Linked DNA regions of Homo sapiens. The protein of the gene in region 3 interacts with the protein of the main gene of each other region in a pairwise test. Each region holds a gene or a part of one and is shown on either strand. Other genes may lie near its edges.

Region 1 (3,657 bases), on a different chromosome or scaffold from region 3:
GAATAATCAAGTTAAAATAGAGATTGCGTTGAGCTAGTTTGTGTCAGACAGTGTGCAGAGTCCCCAAAATTTGCAAAACAGCACTATTTTATATTCCATTTTGGGTTTTTTAGTATTTTGAATTCTGAATTGCTTATTTCTTTAGCACTTGTTAGATTTTATAATACAGTATAATATTAAATCCTCAAATTGTACTTTTAAAATTTAAGCTAAAATACCCCAGGACTGGTAACTAATACTTTCACATAAAAGTCCTCCTTAAAGGATCTAAGGAACATCTAATCTTGTTTTAGCTATTCTCCACATCCCTAACCCTGGACTTTGCTCAGAAAGAAAAAAAAAATCTGGTTGCCCTTGGATAACTATGGAGGGGCCAGGAAAATGCGTGAATTTGGGCAGCTGTAATAGAACAGAAATGTATATTTTCAAAGTCTCTTTTATCCAGGTGTCATAGAGCGCCTGACGTTTTTTCATCAAAAGATCTGAGTAGTGTAAGCTGATTATCTCTCTTTTTTTTTTTTTTTTGAGACGAAGTCTCGCTCTTGTTCCCCAGGCTGGAGTGCAATGGCGTGACCATGGCTCACTGCAACCTCTGCCTCCTGGGTTCAAGCTATTCTCCTGCCTCAGCCTCCAGAGTATCCAGGATTACAGGCGCCTGCCACCACTCCTGGCTAATTTTTGCATTTTTAGTAGAGACGGGGTTTCACCATGTTGGCCAGGCTGGTCTTGAACTCCTGACCTCAGGTGATCCACCCGCCTCGGCCTCCCAAAGTGCTGGGGTTACAGGCGTGAGCCCCTGTGCCCGGCCTGGTTATCTCTTTTCAATGGAGAAACTGAGACATATAATAATAAACTAATTAGCCCAGCATGATCTGGCAAGAACCCCACTACAGGTCCCAGGTTGTGATTACTGAAACACAACTCCTTCCTATGAACAAACTCATATTCTTTGTGTGTAATGCTAAATAAAAATCTTAGTTTTAAGAATTACTTGTTATAAGTTAGAGATTAATTTTAGGAGAAGCATGCCTTTTACATTTTTGACCTTGGAATTTAAAAACTAAAATGTGGCATTAAAGGTTTTTTTTTTTTAATTAAGAAAAGAGAATTTCTGTTACATCAAGGAAGAAAGGAAACAAGTCAGAAGCTATTTAGTTTTATGTGTGCTGATATATATAGATATCCTTATTCAGATCTCTAAGATGAAACAGTCCAAGGTCAGATACTGGAAGACCAGGAGAGTGTTTTGATCTTGTGGGGAGTGATCCTGACTACATAGAGGTTCTGCAAAGTCCTAGTTCTATCACCTGTATCTTGGCTCAGTTTCCTAACAATGTAATGGATAATACCAAATACTTTCTACAAATTTATTTTTAAATGCTTTGTGGACTTGTGAATACTTGCTGACTGAATCAGTTAAACTTTAGGGACAGCCAAAAATTTGTATACTGTTCAGGTAGCATTTACTGTACTGTAGGGGCCATTTTCCTGATTAATACTTTGGTGGTTTGGGTGTAAGTAATTCTTAGTGCTTCAGGTACACTCAGGATATACATTTGTCAGCAGATAGGAATTAACCATGTTTGTTTTCAAAGAAAGATAAGTAATGTTTCTGTATATATATTTTTTCATTTTGACTTGGATATTTTTCAAAGTACAGGGGCAAACGAGCCACATTTCAGAAATAAGGATATGTTTCACAGTATGTTGTGGTGATTTATACAAACTTCATAGTGAATCTAGTTTAAGGATGAACTCCCTGACTTACCTATGCTTTTATGTTAGGGAAAAAACTGGCTAAAGTTGTTTTAATTGTTATTTATTTATTTATTTATAAGAAACAGGGTCTCCCTCTGTTGCCCAGGCTGGAATGCAGAGGTACAATCATAGCTCACTGTAGCCTCAAACTCCTGGGCTGAAGCAATCCTCCCTCCTCAGCCTCCTGAGTAGCTGAGACTACCGGCATGTGCCACCACACCTGGCTAATTAAAAAAATTTTTGTTTTGTAGAGGCAAGGTCTCACTATGTTGCCCAGGCTGGTCTCAAACTGAACTCCTGGCCACAAGCGATCCTCCTGCCTGCCTCAGCCTCCCAGAGTGCTGGGATTACAGACATGAGCCACTGTGCCTGGTCTAAATTCTTTATTTATAATTTCATATTCCATAATAATAAACATCTTGAGATTAAATATTTTGTTACTAGGTAATGATTTTTTATAGCCATTTACTCTTGATAATAGCTTGATATGATTTGTGCCATAATGGATTTTGTTTTCAGGACTTGTAATATAATTTCATGGGCAGAGAGTATGTTGTTGAACTAAGGCAGTGAGTGGCTCTCAAACTAGCATACATCAGAATCACCTGGACAGTTTAATAAAACCCAGATTGCTGAGCACCATCCCCAGAGTTTCTGATTCAGTAGGTTTGGGCAGGAGCCCAAGAGCTTGCATTTCTAATAAGTTCCCAGGTGACGCTGATGCCGCTGATCTGGGGATAACACTTTGAGACCCACTGAACTAAAGTGAATGAGAAATTTGCTGAAATTGCCTGAGCATGTGAAAGGATCATGCCTTGTGTGCCTTTTAAAAACTGCTGTTTTGACATTACGCTTTTTTTAAAAGGGCGTATTTTTCACCAGAATTACAGAGTACTTAAATTTTGAATGATTATGGTGATGAATATTAATAATAAAATATCAGGGGTTTAAATAGAATGCTGAAATTAAACCATGTAAATTGCAAAAGTACATTTTAAATTCTGAATTACAGTAGGTCTGGTTCGTGGTTAGTCAAACACCTGGATACTTACATGTGTGTTTTTTAGTATGCATTATATGGATGAATATTATAATGGCCTAGCTTCCTGCCTTTGGAGAAATGGAAAAGAAATGTGAAGTGACCTAGTTAAACCATCATTTTAACTTTACCACCTCTCCCAGATTTTCTCAGGCAGATTTCTTGAGTCCTAACTTGGTAATACTTGTGTAACTTTACTTCAGTGATCTCGGGTCAGACCTTGACTGTAAATATACTACACTAAGTAGGTGATTGATTCATCTGAGAACTCTGTGGCATCATTGCCCTCTCTGTCTAGCAGTCAAAGTAAAGTTATTGACAGATCATCTGCTCTCCTAAGTCACTGGATATGGCAGGAGAAAATGAACCCAGAAAACAAAATGAAGGATAGTGAAATGCAGACACCAGTGATGTCTGCAGCTTTCTCTATACCCAGTGTGGTGGAAGGAGAAAAAGGCAGCACTCTTCTTTCTAATTAAATCCGCATAGCACACTTATTTTCTCATTGTTTCAGCTAAGGGTATGCTGCTATCCCTGTATTTGGTAAAGAGAGATAATGATGATTTGTTTTATAAATGACAAAAGAAAGACTGCTTCCTGCTGCCTAATCTGCAGAGGCACAATGATGACATAGAACTTGCTTTCTCCTTTTCCTGAGAATAACTCCTCATGTTGGGTATATTTGGCCCATTGAAGTTATATATAATTCCTATTCTATGAGAATTTGTTTTATACCTTTGTGAATTGAAGAGAACATACATGTCTTGTGTGTTTTGTTTTTATTGTTTAGGAGAAAACTGATGTGGAAGGAACCTTATTTGTTTATACAAGGTAAGAGTGTTTCACTTTTATAAAGAAAC
Region 2 (3,657 bases), on a different chromosome or scaffold from region 3:
ACTCTGTTACCCAGGCTGGAGTGCAGTGGTGTAATCTCAGCTCACTGCAACCTCTACCTCCTGGGTTCAAGTGATTCCCATGCCTCAGCCTCCCGGGTAGCCGGGATTAAAGGCACGTGCCACCATGCCTGGCTAATTTTTGTATTTTTAGCAGAGACGTGGTTTCATCATGTTGGCCAGGCTGGTCTCGAGCTCCTGGGCTCAAGTAATCCACGCACCTTGGCCTCCCAAAGTGCTGGAATTACAGGTGTGAGGCAGCATGCCGACCTACTTTCATAAATGCAAAGAAAAAGGCCTGAAATAACAAACTGCACTGTTTAATGTATGTGTGTGTTTCACTGGGGGCCCTGGGGGAATAGGAGAAGAGGGTGAGGACTTTAGACCTGAGAATGTACTCACAAAGCTGCTCATGAAATAAAAAGATCAAAGAAAAATTCACATCCTTCACAGATGAATTCAACTAATTATATAGGACAGGAATTAACTAGAAGCATCTTTCCAAAGGCAATCTAACCTCATCTATGATAGATTCTCAGACAATATCAGGAGAGAAAACCCTTCATTATTAGCAAGAAGCAGCCAAACTATATATAAACCAATCTGTTACATGGAAAACATTACACAACCTGCTTAAAAAACTATTTCATTAAAGAATGCTTTAAATGTTTTACGGAGAATAAAAAGAAAAAATCTTTTAGGAAGGTTCACCTGTAGTAAGGGGCAAAAGAAAGTATACTGTCCCAAGTTTGGGGACACAAGGTAAAGGGTTAAACAAAACCAACCAAAAAACAAAAAGAAAACACACAAAAGCTCCCAATTCGACTTTTGTTAGCGGGGGCAAAAAAGGAGAGATGACATATTTCTCTTCAGAAATTTGCCACTACCCACCCCCTTTTTCCTATTCCCATGCCAGGGTACTCGCAAAATTAGAAAGCAGCAAAAAAATGAGATGAATACAGCTTCAGAAAAGATCTAATCAAAACACTGCTAAAGTACTCATGTGCTGAAGATATCAGTTACACACATTCAAACTGATCCTCCCACCAAAAGCTATCACAGTGGTGGGCAAAATAGTGGCTAAGGTGTCTCTGGAGAACTGCTCAGTAGAAAAGTACGCCTCTGTAATAGAGAATATATGATTAGCTCCTATATTTTGGATGAAAGCCCCTCATTAATCCAAATCAAACCCTTCTCTATCAACACACTACAGAACATGACATACAGCGTTTCTGAGGCAATGGGAGGGACAGTGACAGCATTTTTTAACAGAATATAGCAGGTACAAAAAGAAAAGGCATGATACAGCATGGCCTATTTGAAAAATTTTAAAAGTGTCCAGTAGGTTTGGAAATTGGAGAAGCAGTCTTAAGTCCAGGGTCTTGCAACACTAAACAGTCATGAGTCCCCTTCCTGGCTGTGAGCCAAGGAAGACTGGGCAAGGAGCTACGTGATCAGTAAGTGCTCTGAAGTAAGTTAGCTCCAGTGGCAATGTGCAATGTCCCAGGAATGGAGGGGCAACAAAGCAGGAAGAGCAGTGAGGAGACTGACCACTGCAATGCACCAGCTGCAAAGTGAGAAGACATGGAGGGCAAGTGAAAATGGGATCAGACCACAAAGCAGCATTTACTGCAACAACCACATGCTTTCTTGTCTATCTCTTTTCACTTACACATTAGGTAAACCAAACTTCCTTTACATTTTGTGGTATCAGCTAGCTTTTTGGTGTTAATCATAATAATCTCCAAGGCAACAAATAAATCTGGGGCTCTATGAATTCACAACATTTCCCACAATTTAAGAACATTCTCTTTTTAGAGACAAGATAGATACAGGCAAACACAAATAGGAATTAGCATGGGAAAGATGGCCCAAGATAAATCATATGTGGTAATAACACAATTTCAAGAACGATTATGTAAGAAAGAACGTGACTGAAATATGACTAAACCTATAGTGTGTAAAAAACAGAGTATCTAAAAATCTTTAAATTTAAATATTATTTTCATTGCTTTTTTTTTTTTGAGATGGAGTCTCGCTCTGTTGCCCAGGCTGGAATGCAGTGGTGCGATCTCCACTCACTGCAAGCTCCGCCTCCCGAGTTCACGCCATTCTGCTGCCTCAGCCTCCCGAGTAGCTGGGACTACAGGTGCCCACCACCACGCCCGGCTAATTTTTTTTTTGTATTTTTAGTAGAGACGGGGTTTCACCGTTTCACCGTGTTAGCCAGGATGGTCTCGATCTCCTGACCTTGTGATCTGCCCACCTTGGCCTCCCAAAGTGCTGGGATTACAGGCGTGAGCCACTGCGCCCGGCCTTTTTTCACTGCTTTTGAGGCCTGCCTCTTCCTCCTTTCCTGTGTGTGATGGGTTTCTGATTTGCTCTTAAAATCTTGTCATTGGAAATAAGAAAAAGGGATATAAAGATCTTGCGGGGCCTCCAGAGCCACGATGAGAACTTTGGTCTTGATCCTGAAATCGGCGGTACCCAGAGGGGCCACACAGAGTGGGCTGTTGTATTTAGGTTAGTTAAAATGTTAAGTATGGAAGAGATGGACAAGATGGATTCAGAAAAACACACAGGACTTAGATACACAAAGTGAAAAAAAAAAAAAAAGGCAATACAAAGAATTAGATGGCTAAAGTAAGGAAACGTGGGGTGGGTAGATGGGCCCAGGTACACAGAGCCAGCATGAGTTCCTGCTCAAATAAAGCCATTCATTTATCATTAACTCTGTTCTTCCAGTCCTCCAGCTTCAAAAAGAGATGGCCCCTGCTTCCTGCTGAAACTAATGCCCCCCTCCTATAGGTCTCCACTCTTTCTTGTTCCCTCAATGCCCTTGCTCCTAGAAAACAATCTGCCTTCCATTTCAAAATCTGGCTTTACAAATGGACTTTACACTTAAAAATAATCCACCTATGCCCAACCCCCCATCTGAAAGAGAACACTCACAATGATTCTGCTGGACCCTTCTTCAACAGTTTTACCCTTCATATTTGTTTTTCCCAAGGCAGCAGACTATCCCCATAGTCACAACCTTTCACTTTCAGGCTGACTCAGCCTGATTGTCTAGACATTTGTATTTCTCCTAAGTGAATCCTGATGATCTAATCCACTCACAGTAATCCCATGTTCCCAGCCAGTGACTGGTTCAGACAAAAGCATTGTGACCCAATGCTGGCCAAGATGAGAAGTCTACCTGGTGAGGGGTGAGAGTGGCATGGGGTCCCACAGGGGAAATAAACAAACAGTTGTCTTAAAAAGATATGTATTTCCAGCCAATGCACCTATGAAAAAAAAAAAAAAACTATAGAGGAAGAGGCCCTATTACTGCTAGGCACTACTTAATTTGATGAGACACCTAGCTGTAGTCAGCACGGGACCATAAGGGCTAGCAGAGGACAACATGTGGAGGACAGCAGTTTAAAGAGAGAAATGGGGTGGGCACTGTGGCTCACACCTATAATGCCAGCACTTTGAGAGGTCGAGGCAGGAGGATCACTTGAGCCCAGGAGTTCGAGACCGGCCAGGACAACATGGTGAAACCCTGTCTCTACAAAAAAATACAGAAAAATAATAAAGACAGAAATGATCTGAGTCTCTGATGACCTCAGTGAGGCACTGACATCACCCAAATTAGACTCTGCCATCTTGTTTAAG
Region 3 (3,657 bases):
CTTATATGAACAAGCCTCACAGTGCTAATGAGTACCATAATGTTCAGTCTATGGACAATATGTGTTGGCCTGCCCCCAGCCAGATCCCTCCTGTATCCACACCAGTAACTGAACTTTCTCGAATTTGTTCCCTTGTTGGAATGCCACAACCTGATTTCTCCTTTCTTAGGATGCCACAGGTATAGTATACTACTGTTCTATTTATATAAATTATTTAACATTAAGCTTAAATAAATTGGTTGAAAATGTTTAGCTAGAAAAAATAAAATGGGGCCTATTTTTCTTAACTTTATGAGCAGCATAGATTTATGCTTCTTACCCTAGCTCTAATATTTATACATAACCAAAGCCCTAAGAGAAGCTGACAGGGAGGAACTGGGCAGCAGGTATCCTGGCAAGATTCCTCAAACTAATAGAGCCAGGGATCTTGGCCTACAGTAGCAATTTTCAAACTTTTTGGTCTCAGAAACTTCACACTTTTTTTGGAGGACCCCAAAGAGATTTTGTTTACTTATATCCATATTTACTGTGTTTGAAATTAAAACAAAAAAAATTGGCCAGTTGTAATGGGTCATGCCTGTAACTCAGCACTTTGGGAGGCCAAGGCGGGAGGACAGCTTGAGGCTGGGAGTTTAAGACCAGCCTGGGCAACATAGCAAGACCTCATCTCTACAAAAGAATATAAAAATAAAATTAGCCATGTGTGTTGTGAGCCTGTAGTCCCAGCTGCTCACAAGGCTGAGGCAGGAGGACGGAAGCCCAGGAGGTCAGGACTTCAGTGAGCCACGATTATGCCATTGCACTCCAGCCTGGGCAACAGAGCAAGACCTTGTCTCTGAAACATATATATATATATATATATATATATATATATATATATATATATATATATATATATATATATATATAATATTACAAGTAAACCTATATGTTTATTAATCCATTGTTTATTAAAAATAACTTTCACCTAATAGACATCTGTAGAACATTTCATCCAACAGCTGTAGAATATACATTCTTTTCCTCAACAAATGGAACATTCTCAAGGATAAACCAAATGTTAAGCCACAAAACAAGTCTCACAAAATTCAAAAGATTAAAATTCAATCAAGTATATTTTCTGACCATAATGAAATAAAACCAGAAATCAATAACAAGAGGAACTTTGGAAACTATACAAATAAATGGAAATTAAACATTATGTTTCTGAATGGCCCTTGGGTCAATGAAGAAATTAAGAGAAAATTTTAAATTTTCCTGAAGCAAATGAAAATGGAAACACAACATACCAAAACCTGTAGGATACGGCAAAAGTAGTACTAGGAGGGAAGATTATAGCAATAAATCCCTGCATCCAAAAAGTACAGACACTTCAAATAAACAACCTAACAGTGTGTCTTGAAGAATTAGTTCCAGCAGTCACACTACTGGGTATCTATCTAAAGGAAAAGAAATTGTATAAAAAAGATACCTGATTTGTATGTATATTGCAGCACTAGTCACAATAGCCAAGATGTAGAATCAACCTAAGGGTCCATCAACAGATGATTGGATAAAGAAAATGTGGTGTATATATACACAATGGAATATTGTTCAGACATTTTAAAAAAGAATGAAACCATGTCTTTTGCAGCAACATGGATGGAACTGAGGCCATTATCTTAAGCAAACAACTCAGAACAGATACCACATGTTCTCATTTATAAGTGGGAGCTAAATAATGTGTACATAGGGATATAGAGTGTGAAATAATAGAGACTTGGAAGGGTGGGGGATGGGCAGGGAGTAGATGGTGAGAAATTACTTAATGGCTGCAATGTATGCAGTGTACATAATTCAGGTGATGAATATAAGAAAAGCCCAGACTTTACCACTCTGCAATAAATCCATGTAACAAAACTGCACTCGCACCCCTTACGTTTATACAAATTTTTAAAATAAATAATAACTAGAAAAGCAAGAGGAAACCAAACCCAAAATTATTAGAAGAAAAGAAATGATAAAGATTGGGGCAGAAATTAATGAATTGATACTAAAAATAGTACAAAAGATGGATGAAAGAAAAAGTTGTTTTTTTTTTTTAAAAGATAAGCAAAATCAACAAACCTTTAGCCGGACTGTAAAAGAGAGAATATCCATATGAATAAAATCAGAGATGAAAAAGGAGTCATTACATCTGATAACACAGAAATTCAAAATATTTTAGAGACTATTATGAGCAACTATATGCAGTAAATTGGAAAACTTAGAAGAAATGGATGAATTCCGAGACACATAAAAACATACCAAGATTGAACCATGAAGAAATCCAAAACTTGAATAGAACAACATTAACAAGATGGAAGCGGTAGTAAAAAGCCTCTTATCAAAGTAGACCAGGACCTGGTGTTTTCGCTACTGAATTCTGCCAAACGCTGAAAGAAGAGCTAATAAGAGTTCTACTCAGACTGTTCCAAAAACTTGAGGAGGAGAAAATACTTCCAAACTTGCCAGTATTACCCTGATACCAAAACCAAAGAAAGACACTACAAAAAATGAGAACTACAGGCCGATATATCTGATGAAGTAGATATAAAAATCTTCAACACAATACTAGTGAATTGAATTCAAAGGCACATTAAAAAGATAATTCATCATGATCAAGTGGGATTCATCCCAGGTATGCAAGGATGTTTAAATATATGCAGTCAATAACTGTGACACATCAACAAAATGAAGAACAAAAACCATATGATCATTTCAATACTAACTGAAAAAGTGTTTGATAAAATTCAGCATCTCTTTGTGATAACAGCTCTCAACAAACTGGGTATAGAAGGAACATACCTCAACATAATAAACAACAACAAACCCACAGCTAGTATCATACTGAATGGGGGAAAAATGAAATACTTTCCTTTAAATTCTGGAAACAAGACAAGGATGCCCACTTTCACCACTGTTAATATAGTACTGGAAATCCTTGCCAGAGCAATTAGACAACAGAAATAAATAAAAGGCATCCAAAAGGGAAAGGAAGGAGTCAAACTACTCTTGTTAGTAGACAATATAATCTTATATTTAGAAAAAAACTATTAGAATTGATAAATTCAGTGAAGTTGTAGGATACAAAATCAACATACAATCAGTCACATTTCTATATACTGACAGCAAACAATCTGAAAAAGAAACCAAGAAATTAATCCCCTGCAGAATAGCTACAAATAAATAAAATACCTAGAAATTAATCAAGTTAACCAAAGCAGTGAAAGATCTCTACAATGAAAACTTATTATAAAACAATGATGCAAGAAATTGAAGAAGACACAAAGAAATGGAAAGATTGTCCATGTTCATGTATTGGAAGAATCAATATTGTTAAAATGTCTATACCACCCCCAAGCAATCTGCAGATACAGTGCAACTCCTCTCAAAATACCGATGACATTCTTGACAGAAATAGAAAAAAAAAAAAAATCCTAAAATTTATCTTGAACCGCACACGATCCTGAATAGCTACGGCAATCCAGAGCAAAGTGAACAAAGCTGGAGGCATTATACTGCAAAGTTACATAACCAAAACAACATGGTACTGGCTTAAAAACAGACAGAGACCAATGGAACAGAATAGAGAATCCAGAAATAAATCCACACAGTTACAGTCAACTTATTTTTTAT

The links.
Region 1: the proteins of XRN1 (region 3) and DCP1B interact in a two-hybrid assay, tested with the Homo sapiens proteins (one large-scale study listed by BioGRID).
Region 2: the proteins of XRN1 (region 3) and WAPL interact in a two-hybrid assay, tested with the Homo sapiens proteins (one large-scale study listed by BioGRID and IntAct).

Annotation. Positions count from the first base shown.
Region 1 is NC_000012.12:1,997,906-2,001,562, reverse strand, and holds part of DCP1B (mRNA-decapping enzyme 1B), read left to right. Parts: intron 1-3,587; coding exon 3,588-3,628; intron 3,629-3,657. UniProt on the Homo sapiens protein: May play a role in the degradation of mRNAs, both in normal mRNA turnover and in nonsense-mediated mRNA decay. May remove the 7-methyl guanine cap structure from mRNA molecules, yielding a 5'-phosphorylated mRNA fragment and 7m-GDP.
Region 2 is NC_000010.11:86,438,285-86,441,941, forward strand, and holds part of WAPL (wings apart-like protein homolog), read right to left. Parts: intron 1-3,657. UniProt on the Homo sapiens protein: Regulator of sister chromatid cohesion in mitosis which negatively regulates cohesin association with chromatin. Involved in both sister chromatid cohesion during interphase and sister-chromatid resolution during early stages of mitosis.
Region 3 is NC_000003.12:142,325,956-142,329,612, reverse strand, and holds part of XRN1 (5'-3' exoribonuclease 1), read left to right. Parts: coding exon 1-179; intron 180-3,657. UniProt on the Homo sapiens protein: Major 5'-3' exoribonuclease involved in mRNA decay. Required for the 5'-3'-processing of the G4 tetraplex-containing DNA and RNA substrates. The kinetic of hydrolysis is faster for G4 RNA tetraplex than for G4 DNA tetraplex and monomeric RNA tetraplex.